Linked DNA regions of Homo sapiens: region 2 is linked to region 1. A link means that fine-mapping ties the variant in region 1 to the expression of a gene that starts in the linked region. Tissue or cell type: whole blood. Region 1 holds a variant in brackets; the other region holds the start of a gene. All regions are shown on one strand. Distances are between the middles of the regions.

Region 1 (8,110 bases):
GTTTTGTCGAAAAGAAAAGGGGGAAATGTGGGGAAAAGCAAGAGAGATCAGATTGTTACTGTGTCTGTGTAGAAAGAAGTAGACATAGGAGACTCCATTTTGTTATGTACTAAGAAAAATTCTTCTGCCTTGAGATTCTGTTAATCTATAACCTTACCCCCAACCCCGTGCTCTCTGAAACGTGTGCTGTGTCAACTCAGAGTTAAATGGATTAAGGGCGGTGCAAGATGTGCTTTGTTAAACAGATGCTTGAAGGCAGCATGCTCCTTAAGAGTCATCACCACTCCCTAATCTCAAGTACCCAGGGACACAAAAACTGCGGAAGGCCGCAGGGACCTCTGCCTAGGAAAGCCAGGTATTGTCCAAGGTTTCTCCCCATGTGATAGTCTGAAATATGGCCTCGTGGGAAGGGAAAGACCTGACCATCCCCCAGCCCGACACCCGTAAAGGGTCTGTGCTGAGGAGGATTAGTAAAAGAGGAAGGAATGCCTCTTGCAGTTGAGACAAGAGGAAGGCATCTGTCTCCTGCCTGTCCCTGGGCAATGGAATGTCTCGGTATAAAACCCGATTGTATGCTCCATCTACTGAGATAGGGAAAAACTGCCTTAGGGCTGGAGGTGGGACCTGCGGGCAGCAATACTGCTTTGTAAAGCATTGAGATGTTTATGTGTATGCATATCTAAAAGCACAGCACTTAATCCTTTACATTGTCTATGATGCAAAGACCTTTGTTCACGTGTTTGTCTGCTGACCCTCTCCCCACAATTGTCTTGTGACCCTGACACATCCCCCTCTTCGAGAAACACCCACAAATGATGAATAAATACTAAGGGAACTCAGAGGCTGGCGGGATCCTCCATATGCTGAACGCTGGTTCCCCGGTTCCCCTTATTTCTTTCTCTATACTTTGTCTCTGTGTCTTTTTCTTTTCCAAATCTCTCGTCCCACCTTACGAGAAACACCCACAGGTGTGTAGGGGCAACCCACCCCTACAATGGAAGATGAAATGAATGAAATGAAGCGAGAAGGGAAGTTTAGAGAAAAAAGAATAAAAAGAAATGAGCAAAGCCTCCAAGAAATATGGGACTATGTGAAAAGACCAAATCTACGTCTGATTGGTGTACCTGAAAGTGACGGGGAGAATGGAACCAAGTTGGAAAATACTCTGCAGGATATTATCCAGGAGAACTTCCCCAATCTAGCAAGGCAGGCCAACATTCAGATTCAGGAAATACGGAGAACGCCACAGAGATACTCCTCGAGAACAGCAACTCCAAGACACATAATTGTCAGATTCACCAAAGTTGAAATGAAGGAAAAAATGTTAAGGGCAGCCAGAGAGAAAGGTCGGGTTACCCTCAAAGGGAAGCCCATCAGACTAACAGCAGATCTCTCAGCAGAAACCCTACAAGCCAGGAGAGAGTGGGGGCCAATATTCAACATTCTTAAAGAAAAGAATTGTCAACCCAGAATTTCATATCCAGCCAAACTAAGCTTCATAAGCGAAGGAGAAATAAAATACTTTACAGACAAGCAAATGCTGAGAGATTTTGTCACCACCAGGCCTGCCCTAAAAGAGCTCCTGAAGGAAGCACTAAACATGGAAAGGAACTACCGGTACCAGCCGCTGCAAAATCATGCCAAAATGTAAAGACCATCTAGACTAGGAAGAAACTGCATGAACTAACGAGCAAAATAACCAGCTAACATCATAATGACAGGATCTAATTCACACATAACAATATTAACTTTACATGTAAATGGACTAAATGCTCCAATGGAAAGACACAGACTGGCAAATTGGATAAAGAGTCAAGACCCATCAGTGTGCTGTATTCAGGAAACCCATCTCACGTGCAGAGACACACATAGGCTCAAAATAAAAGGATGGAGGAAGATCTACCAAGCAAATGGAAAACAAAAAAAGGCAGGGGTTGCAATCCTAGTCTCTGATAAAACAGACTTCAAACCAACAAAGATCAAAAGAGACAAAGAAGGCCATTACATAATGGTAAAGGGATCAATTCAACAAGAAGAGCTAACTATCCTAAATATATATGCACCCAATACAGGAGCACCCAGATTCATAAAGCAAGTCCTGAGTGACCTACAAAGAGACTTAGACTCCCACACATTAATAATGGGAGACTTTAACACCCCACTGTCAACATTAGACAGATCAATGAGACAGAAAGTCAACAAGGATACCCAGGAATTGAACTCAGCTCTGCACCAAGCGGACCTAATAGACATCTACAGAACTCTCCACCCCAAATCAACAGAATATACATTTTTTTCAGCACCACACCACACCTATTCCAAAATTGACCACATACTTGGAAGTAAAGCTCTCCTCAGCAAATGTAAAAGAACAGAGATTATAACAAACTATCTCTCATACCACAGTGCAATCAAACTAGAACTCAGGATTAAGAATCTCACTCAAAACCACTCAACTACATGGAAACTGAACAACCTGCTCCTGAATGACTACTGGGTACATAATGAAATGAAGGCAGAAATAAAGATGTTCTTTGAAACCAATGAGAACAAAGACACAACATACCAGAATCTCTGGGACACATTCAAAGCAGCGTGTAGAGGGAAATACATAGCACTAAATGCCCACAAGAGAAAGCAGGAAAGATCCAAAATTGACACCCTAACATCACAATTAAAAGAACTAGAAAAGCAAGAGCAAACACATTCAAAAGCTAGCAGAAGGCAAGAAATAACTAAAATCAGAGCAGAACTGAAGGAAACAGAGACACAAAAAACCCTTCAAAAAATTAATGAATCCAGGAGCTGGTTTTTTGAAAGGATCAACAAAATTGATAGACCGCTAGCAAGACTAATAAAGAAAAAAAGAGAGAAGAATCAAATAGACACAATAAAAAATGATAAAGGGGATATCGCCACCAATCCCACAGAAATACAAACTACCATCAGAGAATACTACAAATATCTCTACGCAAATAAACTAGAAAATCTAGAAGAAATGGATAAATTCCTCGACACATACACTCTCCCAAGACTAAACCAGGAAGAAGTTGAATCTCTGAATAGACCAATAACAGGCTCTGAAATTGTGGCAATAATCAATAGCTTACCGACCAAAAAGAATCCAGGACCAGATGGATTCACAGCCAAATTCTACCAGAGGTATAAGGATGAGCTGCTACCATTCCTTCTGAAATTATTCCAATCAATAGAAAAAGAGGGACTCCTCCCTAACTCATTTTATGAAGCCAGCATCATTCTGATACCAAAGCCGGGCAGAGACACCACCAAAAAAGAGAATTTTAGACCAATATCCTTGATGAACATTGATGCAAAAATCCTCAATAAAATACTGGCAAAACGAATCCAGCAGCACATCCAAAAGCTTATCCACCATGATCAAATCGGCTTCATCCCTGGGATGCAAGGCTGGTTCAATATACGCAAATCAATAAATGTAATCCAGCATATAAACAGAACCAAAGACAAAAACCACATGATTATCTCAATAGATGCAGAAAAAGCCTTTGACAAAATTCAACAACCCCTCATGCTAAAAACTCTCAATAAATTAGGCATTGATGGGACGTATTTCAAAATAATAAGAGCTATCTATGACAAACCCACAGCCAATATCATACTGAATGGGCAAAAACTGGAAGCATTCCCTTTGAAAACTGGCACAAGACAGGGATGCCCTCTCTCACCACTCCTATTCAACATAGTGTTGGAAGTTTTGGCCAGGGCAATTAGGCAGGAGAAGGAAATAAAGGGTATTCAATTAGGAAAAGAGGAAGTCAAATTGTCCCTGTTTGC[A/C]GATGACATGATTGTATATCTAGAAAACCCCATTGTCTCAGCCGAAAATCTCCTTAAGCTGATAAGCAACTTCAGCAAAGTCTCAGGATACAAAATCAATGTGCAAAAATCACAAGCATTCCTATACACCAACAACAGACAAACAGAGAGCCAAATCATGAGTGAAATCCCATTCACAATTGCTTCAAAGAGAATAAAATACCTAGGAATCCAACTTACAAGGGATGTGAAGGACGTCTTCAAGGAGAACTACAAACCGCTGCTCAAGGAAATAAAAGAGAATACAAACAAATGGAAGAACATTCCATGCTCATGGGTAGGAAAAGTCAATATCGTGAAAATGGCCATACTGTCCAAGGTAATTTACAGATTCAATGCCATCCCTATCAAGCTACCAATGACTTTCTTCACAGAATTGGAAAAAACTACTTTAAAGTTCATATGGAACCAAAAAAGAGCCCGCATCGCCAAGGCAATCCTAAGCCAAAAGAACAAAGCTGGAGGCATCACACTACCTGACTTCAAACTATACTACAAGGCTACAGTAAGCAAAACAGCATGGTACTGGTACCAAAACAGAGATATAGATCAATGGAACAGAACAGAACCCTCAGAAATAACGCCGCATATCTACAACTATCTGATCTTTGACAAACCTGAAAAAAACAAGCAATGGGGAAAGGATTCCCTATTTAATAAATGGTGCTGGGAAAACTGGCTAGCCATATGTAGAAAGCTGAAACTGGATCCCTTCCTTACACCTTATACAAAAATCAATTCAAGATGGATTAAAGACTTACAAGTTAGACCTAAAACCATAAAAATCCTAGAAGAAAACCTAGGCATTACCATTCAGGACATAGGCTTGTGCAAGGACTTCATGTCTAAAATACCAAAAGCAACGGCAACAAAAGCCAAAATTGACAAATGGGATCTAATTAAACTAAAGTGCTTCTGCGCAGCAAAAGAAACTACCATCAGAGTGAACAGGCAACCTACAAAATGGGAGAAAATTTTCGCAACCTACTCATCTGACAAAGGGCTAATATCCAGAATCTACAATGAACTCAAACAAATTTACAAGAAAAAAACAAACAACCCCATCAAAAAGTGGGCGAAGGACATGAACAGACACTTCTCAAAAGAAGACATTTATGCAGCCAAAAAACACATGAAAAAATGCTCATCATCACTGGCCATCAGAGAAATGCAAATCAAAACCACAATGAGATACCATCTCACACCAGTTAGAATGGCAATCATTAAAAAGTCAGGAAACAACAGGTGCTGGAGAGGATGTGGAGAAATAGGAACACTTTTACACTGTTGGTGGGACTGTAAACTAGTTCAACCATTGTGGAAGTCAGTGTGGCGATTCCTCGGGGATCTAGAACTAGAAATACCATTTGACCCAGCCATCCCATTACTGGGTATATACCCAAAGGACTATAAATCATGCTGCTATAAAGACACATGCACACGTATGTTTATTGCGGCATTATTCACAATAGCAAAGACTTGGAACCAACCCAAATGTCCAACAATGATAGACTGGATTAAGAAAATGTGGCACATATACACCATGGAATACTATGCAGCCATAAAAAATGATGAATTCATGTCCTTTGTAGGGACATGGATGAAATTGGAAATCATCATTCTCAGTAAACTATCGCAAGAACAAAAAACCAAACACCACATATTCTCACTCATAGGTGGGAATTGAACAATGAGATCACCTGGACACAGGAAGGGGAATATCACACTCTGGTGACTGTTGTGGGGTGGGGGGAGGGGGGAGGGATAGCATTGGGAGATATACCTAATGCTAGATGACGAGTTAGTGGGTGCAGCGCACCAGCATGGCACATGTATACATATGTAACTAACCTGCACAATGTGCACATGTACCCTAAAACTTAAAGTGTAATAAATAAATAAATAAATAAATAAATCCAAAAAAAAACAGTATTAAAAAAAAAAAAAGAAAATTCATTACCACTAGACCAGTTTTATAAGAGACACTTAAAGGAGTTCTAAATGTGGAAATAAAAGAATAATACTTGCTACCACAAAAACACATAAGTACATAGTCCACAGAACCTATAAAAAATAACTACACAATTGAGACTACAAAGTATCCAGCTAACAACTACACAATTGAGACTACAAAGTATCCAGCTAACAACATCACAACAGGATCAAAACCTCACATATCGTCCATGTGCAGTGGCTCATGCCTGTAATTCCAGCACTTTGGGAGGCCGAGGCGGGTGGATCACGAGGTCAGGAGATCAAGACCATCCTGGCTAACGTGGTGAAACCCTGTCTCTACTAATAATACAAAAATTAGCCAGGCGTGGTGGCGGGCGCCTGTGGTCCCAGCAACTTGGGAGGCTGAGGCAGGAGAATGGCATGAACCCGGGAGGCAGAGCTTGCAGTGAGCCGAGATCGCTCCACTGCACTCCAGCCTGGGCAACAGAGCGAGACTCCGTCTAAAAAAAAAAAAAACAAACAAAAACTCACATATCAATATTAACCTTGAATATAAGTGGCCTAAACACCCCACTAAAAGGCATAGAGTGGCAAATTGGATTTTTCTTTTAAAAAAAAGACCCAACCTTTCTCTGTCTTCAAGAGACACATATCATGTGTAACAACACCTATAGGCTCATTGCTCCTGAATGACTTTTGGGATAGAAAAAGGTCTATCAAATAAACAGGAAATGAAAAAGAGCAGGAGTGGCTATTCTTGTATGAGATAAAACAGGATTTAAACTCACAACAGAAAAAAAGACAAAAAAAGGGTATTACATAATGATAAAGCGTTCATTTAAACAAAAAAGACATATTTGCCCTAAATATATACGCACTCAACACTGGAGCACTCAGATTCATAAAACAGGTACTTCTACACCTATGGAAAGACTTAAACATCCAATAATAATGGAGAACCTCAATACCCTAACTAAGAGTGTTAGATCATCAAGGCAGAAAACTAACAAAGAAATTCTGGACTAAATTCAATTCTTGACCAACCGGACCTAAAAGACATCTACAAGATACTACCCAACAACCACAGAATATACATTCTTCTCATGTGCATATGGAATATAGTCTAAGATCAACCACATTCTTGGCCATAAAACAAGTCTCAATAAATTTTAAAAAACTGAAATCACACTAGACATATTCTCAGACCACAGTGGAATAAAAATATATATCAACGCCAAGAGGATTTCTCAAAACCACACAACTACATGAAAAGTAAGCTCCTGAATGACTTTTGGGTAACCAACAAAATTAATGAAATAAAAAAATTCTTTGAAATAAATGAAAAGAGAGACACAACATAGCAAAATCTCTGGGATGCAGCAAAAGCAGTGTTAAGAGGAAAGTTTATAGCACTACATACCTATATTGAGAAGTTAGAAAAATCTCAAATTAACAATCTAATATCACACTTAGAGGAACTAGAAAAACAAGAACAAACTAATCCCAAAGCTGGCAGAAGAAAATAAATTACTAAAATCAGAAGAGAACTAATTGACATTGAGATGCCAAAATTCATTAAAAAGGATCAACAAAACAAAAAATTGGTTCTTTGAAAGGAGAAACAAATAACGCCAATAGACTACTAGCTAGATTAAAAAAGAAAAAAAGAGAGACAATTCAAATGAGCACAATGCCAACGACAATGGTGACATTACAACCAATCCCATAGAAATACAAAAGATCCTCAGAGACAACTATGAATACATCTATCTAAACAAACTAAAAAATCTAGAGGAAATGGGTAAATTCATAGTCTCCCAAGATTTAATCAGGAAGAAACTGAAACACTGAACAGGCCAATAATGAATTCTGAAATAGAGCCAGTAACAAAAAATGTACCAACCAAAAAAAGCCCTGTAGCAGACAAACTCAGAGCCAAATTCTACCAGGTGTATAAAGAAGAGCTGGTACCAATCTTACTGAAACTATTCCAAAAAATCAAGGAGAGGAGACTCCTCCCTAATTCATTCTACAAAACCAGCATCATTCTGATACCAAAATCTGGCAAAGACACAAGAAACAAAGAAAACTCCAGGCCAATACCCTTGATGAACTTAGACACAAAAATCCTTAACAAAAAAAAAAAAAAAATGAGCAAATCAAATCCAGCAGCACATCAATAAGCTAATTCATCCTATCAATTAAGATTTATTCCTGGGATGCAAGGTTGGTTCAACATACATGAATCAATAAATGTGACTCATCACATCAACAGAATTAAAAACAAAGACCATATGAT
Region 2 (8,110 bases), 220 kb after region 1:
TAATTTTCCTCCTCTTCATTCTCTCTTAACCCACTTCACTCAAAGCATCATTGCCACCACTTCACCTGGGCTGTCTTTGACTTTCATATTAATTAATTAAGGTCTTCAATGACTTTCATATTAATAAATACAATGGCCATTTCTCAACCCTGATCTTACCTGACCTATGGGCAGCGTTTGACACTGTTGATTATCATTTTCCTCCTTGATACACTTTCTTCCTTGGTTCCAAGACCCCACACCCACTTCTTAGTCACCAGTTGCTCTTTCTCAATCTCCTTTACTGACTCCTCCCCTTCTCACTTATCTCTTAATAATGGAGCAGCCCTGGGCTCAGATCATTTCTCTCAATCTATACTCAATTCCCAGTGAGTCTTCCAGTCTGTGATCTTAAATACCACCAATGTTCTGATGAATTCCAAATTCATATGATCAGCCCAAGCCTCTCTCCAAGACTCCAGACTTACATATCCAGCTTCCTACTTGTCATCTTCACTTGTATATCAAATAAATATTTCAAACCCAAATGTGTCCAAAACTAAACTTCTGATCCTTCCCCATAAACTTGCCCCTTCTACAATCTTCAAATAGTAGTTGATGCCAAGTCCACCTTCTCTTAGTTGTTTAGGTCAAAAACTGTGCATTAATCCATCACTCCTTTCTTTCTCTCACATGAAACATCCTGTTAGTTTTTAAAATTATATAAGTTCTACCTTAAAAATATATTCAGTATCCTTCCATTTCTCATGTTCACCACTGCTTCTACCCTGATAGATGCCACTATCATCTCTCAACTGAATTATTTTTTATAAGCAACTTTTTATTTTAAAATATTAATTGACAAATAAAGACTGTATGTATTCAAAGTGTACAACATGATGATTTGGTATATGTACACGTTGTATAATAAATAATTATTACAACCAAATTTAATAACACATCTGACATAGTTTGGGCTGTGTCCCCACCCAAATCTCATCTTGAATTGTAACTCCCATAATTCCCACATGTCATGGGAGGGACCCAGTGGGAGGTAATTGAATCATGGGGGTGGGTCTTTGCCATGCTGTTTTCATGATAGTAAGTCTCATGAGATCTGATGGTTTTATAAAGGGGAGTTCCCCTGTACATGCTATCTTGCATGCTGCCATGTAAGATGTGACTTTGTTCCTCATTCACCTTCTGCCATGATGGTGAGGCCTCACCAGCCATGTGGAACTGTGAGTCAATTAAACCTCTTTCCTTTATAAGTTACCCAATCTTGGGTATGTCTTCATTAGCAGCATGAAAACAAACTAATACAATATCCATCACTATCTATGCTGTATATTATGTCCCCAGAACTTGTCTTATAACTGTAAGTTTGTACTGTTTGACTAGTATCTCCTCACTTCTCCCACTCCCCCAGCCTTTGGCAACCACCATTCTACTCACTGCTTCTATGAGTTCAATAATTTTGGATTCCACATATAAGTGAGATCATACAGTATTTTTCTTTTTGTGCCTGGTTGATTTCACTTAGTATAAAGTCCTCCAGGTTTATCCATGTTGTTGTAAGTCAATAGCAAAAACAAAACAAAACAAAACAAAAAACAAAAAAAAACAAATAACCCAACTTAAAAATAGGCAAAGGAACTGAAAATATATTTTTCCAGAGAAAAAGATATGGAATCAACCTACGTGTCTATCCACAGATGAATGGATAAACAAAATGTGAGGGGTATGTGTGTGTGTGTGTGTGTGTTGTGTGTGTACACAATGGAGTATTATTCAGCCACCAGAAGAAGAAAATTTTTAAAGAGTTATTGCAAAAGATTCCTTACTAGTCTTCTAGTTTCTCATTACCCCTACATATTGGCTCGATATTCTCAACACAGTCGCCGTAGCAATTATTTTAAAATGTAAGTCAGATCATATTTTTCCTCTGTTCAAAATCTGAACTGGTGCCACATTTCCCCAGAGTAAAAACCAAAGTCTTAAAACTTTCTAAAAAGTTTAATATAATTTAGTCTTCCCTCATCTTTCTGACTTCATTTTCTATTTCTATCCCCCTTACTAATTCCACTTGGTCTTCTTTCTGTTAGTCAAACATACCAGGTATATTTTCACTGTAGGGTCTTTGCTCTGGCTTTTCCTTCCTTCTGGAAGTCTCCTCCCCTTCCACTGCTTCATGTCCTTCAATATTACCTCGTCAATTGGTCCTACCCTAACCACCCTATTAATACTTGCAGCTGGCCCACCATCATCCCATGATTAGCAATCCAAATCCCCCTTACTATGCTCATTTTTTTTTCTTTCTGTCATGGCACTTTTCAATTTTTAATATCAACAATGTATTCATGCTTATTATTCATTGTTTGTCTTCCCTATGTATAGTGTAAACCTCATGAAGAATTCATTTTGTTCCCTGATTTATCCCAAGCATGCTTAGAATAGTGCCCAGTACATAGTAAGCGATTGATTAACACTTATTGAATGAATAGAGAACTACATGAACGAATAAAATAGATTAATATCCTACTCTCAAGTAGAAGAGACGGCAACCTTCCTTTCTTAAATCCTCTTTCTCAGTCTCCTATTTATACCTCAAAGGACTAACTGGGCTGGGAGGAGGAAGGGATTCTTTGGTAAGGAGGAATAGATAAATACAGCTGGAAAGGTTTTTATTTGAATATTTTAGGGTTTCATTTCTTTGGGTTTTTTCTTTTTTAATTGGCAAGTAAAAATTTATATATTTATGGTGTGAAACCTGATGTTTTGATATATATACACATTGTGGAATGGCTAAATCAAGCTATTTAACATATTCATTACCTTACATTCTTATTTTTGATGGTGAGAATAAAAGATTGTAGATTTTAAGAAACTTTCTATCTTCTTAGTTTGGAGGACTGTGAAATCTTGTGCTGTTGGGAGATTTTAGGGCTTTTGTATTCTCTTTATCACTCTGATTTTTGGTTCGGTAGTGCTTCAATTTGGAAAGTATCTTCTAAACTAAATGAACTAGAGGAGCCAGGAATCAGTACTCAAAAAAGCAGAGGAGAAAGCAAGCTGCTACAAGAAACTCAAGGGAAACAAGAAAAGAGAACTTCAGGGTTTCAGCCCAATTCACTAAATAGGAAAGAGGGCTAAGATTCAAGATCAGTGTTGGAACTAGTAACAAATATTACATTTCATGATAGAGGTGCAAAAATAATGAACCACAGGTATATTCATGATCTAATGTTATGTAACCTATTACCCCCAAATTTTAGTGGTTTAAGACAAGAGTAAGCATTTATTATATCTTATGGTTTCTGTGATTCAGGAATCCAGAAGCAGCTTGATTGGATAGCTCTGGGTCGGGGCTATCATGAAATTCAGTCAGATGTTGGCTGAAGCTACAGTCATCTGAAGGCTTGACTTGGTTGCAGGGTCTGTTCCCAAGATAGATCACTCACATAACTAGCAAGTTGTTGCTATTAGCAGGAGGCCTCAGTTCTTCCCACACAGAGCTAAGATTCAAGACTTCTATGCAAGTCAAGAAATACACACACACACACACACACACACACACACACACACACATAGTGAAGTCTGAATATAAATTAGGAACTGAGCTCTTCTTCTCTCTCCATAGGTATATACATATACATACATATACCTATATACACATAGATATCCTGGAGAATTATTTAGAGAGAGCAATATTTCTACATCAGCTCCCTAGGCCAAGTAAGGTGACCCAATGGACTTCACTTTTCTAAAAAGTGCAGTTATACTTATGTATCTTCTCTTACTATTCATCAAAATACCGACAATATTTTGGGCTGAAATGTTAATAATATCTGTATGAACCTCTGCTTCAAAAAATAATCCAAGGGATCCTTGAGTATTTTTAAAACATGGCATCTGGTTTCCCCAAAATGAGCAACATAAGAAAGCAAAGAATACAAAAGAACAAGGCAGAAGCCATAGTGTATGTCTTTATGATGTAGTTTTCTGCTGTACAGTACTGATCACATGGTCAGCTGTGATTCATTTTGGAAGGGGAGTATGAACAGGTGTGAATACCAGTAGGTAAGGATTCCTAGAGATGTTATCAACATCTCAGCCCGAAATATTGTCGATATTTTGGTGAATATTAAGAGAAGATACATAAGTGTAACTGGACTTTTTAGAAAAGTGAAGTCCATTGGGTCACCTTACTTGGCCTAGGGAGCTGATGTAAAAATACTACTCTCTTTAAATAATCCCCCAGGATATCTATATATATACACACACACACACGGAGAGGAAGTGCTCAGTTCCTAATTTATATTCAGACTTCACTATATATATGTGTGTGTGTGTGTGTATTTCTTGAGTTGTATAGAATACGTACTTATGAATAACAAACTTGACCAATTTTCCTACAGACATAGACTTCTTGCATTTAGCAGTATCACTCACCTCTTACTCCATCATTTCTTCAATAACTCCATCAACACTGAACCTTCTAACTCTAACATGCTACGATTCACTACTGTGAAAAAAAAGCTGATGTCATAAACACATTGTGTTCCAGTATCACTAAGGGCCATACCCCATTCTTAGGTAATCCCTGAGGTCCTACTAGCCTTGCTAGCCTCAAAGGAGTCACTTGGAGTATAAAGAGGGGGAGGAGACTGAACAAAGTCCTGGAGCTATAGTATATTTTTTCATTGTTAATCCTTGGCAAAGAAGTAGGTAGTTTGGAGGTGGAAGTAGGCCATGATTACCTTTAAAATAATCTACTATTATTTGTGTCTTTCCTGAATATCATAGCACCTTCTTGTCACAAATGCTTAGGGGAAAGAAAATCATCCAATATACCCCATATCCCACTTACCAACATCTCTACAGTAAAATGAGACCCAAGAGCATGATTTCCTTAACTAGCTATCAAGCAACTACCTCCAACAAACAGCAGTTATCATTAATATGTTCATGCTATTTTCATTTGTGAGGTCTGTAATCCATCAGAACAACCTGACAGTGATTAAGTAAAATCAAAGAGACTTTGTAAACATCTGTGTGCTTTTATTGTTACAAATGCTTCATTATAAAAAGATCAGTCAAAAGCATAAAAGTACCCTGGTTTAAACTTTTTCTGTGTTTGAATGAGAATGTTTCTCTTGGAACATGCTCATATCAGGCTTCCACTTGGCAAAATCACGAATTGGCTGATGTTGTTTTAGAGGCTTTCTCATGTCCCCTTCCAAACATCACTCTTCTCCTTCTGTGGACCCCTTTCTGTTATCTAGGAGCCCCTCATGCTGCCTTCCACATTCTGCCTACTGCACAGTCATGTTCTGGACCCCTCAGAATCCCCCTCTACCATTACAATATGTTTTTCCTAAGACTTACTTGCATTGAAAGGCTTGCCAGGGAAGTGACTAATCTTATCATCTTGTACTAAATGTTAAATTAATCCTCATTCTCTCTAGAATTGTTTTCTAAGCAGGGATTCCTAGAGATGCTATCAATATCTCAGCCTGAAATTGCATAGGTATTCTGGTGAATAGCAAGAGAAAATAACGTGAGTATAACTGGACCTTTTAGAAAAGTGAAGTCTATTAGGTCACCTTAGTTGGCCTAGGGAGTTGATGTAGGAATGCTCCTCTCCCTGAAATAATCTTCCAGGAGAGGAATGTATCCCCAAATAGCAAGTGAATATCCAATGGCTTCTCATTGCACTTAAACTCTATATTCCTTTTTATGACCAAAAAGGCCTGGCTTCTCCCTAACTGTCTCTTCCTTACACATTACACCTCTTCCTTTTGTATGTGAATGTGCCAAGCTACCACCTCATTTCTACCTTAAGGCCTGAAGTGTTATGTTCCAGTTCTTGGCATGCAAATTACTCTTCATCACTTGTTTCCCGACACAAATGCCACCTTTCCAGACAATCTAAAGTAACCTCAAAATCATTTGCTCGCACATCACTTTGTTTTATTTCTCCTGGTATTAATCACTATGTGAAATTTTCTGGTTCATATTATTTGTCACCTGCTTCTTCCAGGCCTCCTCTTACTTCATTGTCTATCATGTTCATTACCGTATCCCTAGTGTTTTGCACAGAATCTGGTACATATTCAGTGCTCAATAAATATGTGCTAAATGAATAAATGAATAAATTAACCTAAACATAAGTTTTACACTTAAGTAATTGAGCAAGAAGTCTTTGTTGTACTAATATTGGAAAAGGCAGGGGTGGGGGTGGTGACGTGATTATAACCAATGTAACCAGCTTGCATTTATAAGACTTGTATTGATTATGAACTATAGCATTTTTTCGTTAAAAACATTATCAATATTGGATTGTAAAAGATTCCATTGGCCTTTCTGAAAGACTGTCCTTTTGATGAGATGTCACAAATGAATGCTAATGTCCCTTGAGAAATCCTGCCAACAGATCTTATTCTTCTATCAATGTTAAGAAACTGCATTTCTCTTTGGCCAATTTCTAGGCTTATGGATAGTCTCTCTTGCTAGGACTTCAGAAGCCAATGAGCAACTTGCCTGTCACAAGATCCGACGAATGATCTCTCCCTGCATGCGGTGTAGCTAAGCAGAGAAGCAGCTCTTGTAAGAGAATAACCAACACAGCATGGAATATTGCTAAATCTACAGTGTTTTATCCAGCAAAGTTCACCCCAGTAGCCTGCCCCTGCCAATAAAGCCTAGAAATTTTTCCTACCAGGCAGTCCCAGTTTAGTTGGTTGTAGCTTAGAAGCAGACATCTGAGAGCAGTTCAGCAAGCCTGCAGTCAGATGCTTTTGTAGAGCTCTCCTCTTAAAAGGCAAAATTGAGGCAAGTCAATAGATTACAACTTTCTGGGTTTGCTTCTGTCATCTATCAAATATCACAATTCATCCTGCTTCGCTAAAGTGAAACTCCAAGGATTTGTTTTTAAAGGTGTCCTTCTTTCTGTGAAATACTAAATGAACTTGTTTTAAAAAACAAGAACAACTCAACACAAGTTGATAGGAGCTAAGTAACATAACTTTTCCTTTAAGAAAAACATGTAGCATGAGAAAACCTTATTTTTAAAGTACTACATAAAATTTATTGAGACCACATGTCGTAAGAAAGCTTGATTATTAATCCTTCCAGAGAAACTGTTAACACTTAACTGCTATTCTTCAATTATTTCACTATCAAATTAAACTTATTCAAGAAAATACAAATGATTCCATACTGACCTACAAAACAAAAACTTTTTGGTGTTTTGAGGGGACGGAAGAATAAAGGGGAGGTGTCTTTTTCATCAAATCTCTTATATGAGCTCATTTCATCAATCTAATTGTATCTTTTTGTGCTTCTGCCAAGATTATTAATTTCAAGGGTAAGATTTTCTCTGGCTACCATGTACTGTAAAACTGTAAAATTTTTTCCACTCTTCATGGACCATTTACAATCTGCAAGGTTTGGGGTGGGAATGAAATGTATTTCTGCCAATGGATAGCCACATCAGCAGTGCTGAAAACCAATCCTTCTGTTTCACTCATCGTGCCATATGGCTCCATAAAAAAGGAGCGAACCAAAAGTGTAGCTCATACGCCTTGTCAATCTGGGCTTAGACTAATTATTTGATATTATGATAAAGAGAGGAATCTGTTTGTAGGTGAATATATTCTCTCTTCTTTCTTTACTCGTGTATCTCTATACCCATGCGCTAATTTATGGAGGGGGGGAATCAGAGGTTTAAAGCCCCTCTAATTTTACAGGAGCTATAATATTTTAAGAAAAGGCATTGCAATAAAATTGTCATACATAGGTTATAATTTTTAACAACAAAAAGTCCCAGGTGTTTTCATAGTAATGTCTTCTTAAGAATTAAGGATCATGATTTTAAACGCTTTCCAGTAAGTGCTTTGAGTACTCCGGAGCAATTAAAAAGCAAGCTGACGCGCCAAGATAAAGTTGTGTCCCCCTAGTGACCTCTAGAGCGGAGCTAAGCTCCCACAAGCCAGACTTGGGAGGAAAAGCAAAAAGCACGCCAAAGCCTGAGCGCTGCTGTAGTCCAAGCCAATGTATTCAGTAATACCCTTCACCCCTCAGTTCTCATCTGAGTTCCTGTCCTTTTTTATATAACCCCAAAGGCTCA

Evidence for each region. PIP is the estimated chance that this variant, and not a neighbour inherited with it, causes the effect.
Region 2: SLC44A5 starts here. The variant in region 1 is fine-mapped to the expression of SLC44A5 in whole blood (TOPMed, PIP 0.97).

Annotation. Positions count from the first base shown.
Region 1 is chr1:75,382,465-75,390,574 of GRCh38, forward strand. All of the region lies in intron 3 of SLC44A5 (solute carrier family 44 member 5), which reads right to left. Among named protein-coding and RNA genes, the nearest start is that of SLC44A5, 220 kb to the right of the region's middle. The variant A/C (reference allele first, on the strand shown) is at 3,817.
Region 2 is chr1:75,606,609-75,614,718 of GRCh38, forward strand. It overlaps SLC44A5 (solute carrier family 44 member 5), which reads right to left and starts at 4,506. Exons shown (of 24, transcript NM_001130058.2): 1 at 4,432-4,506.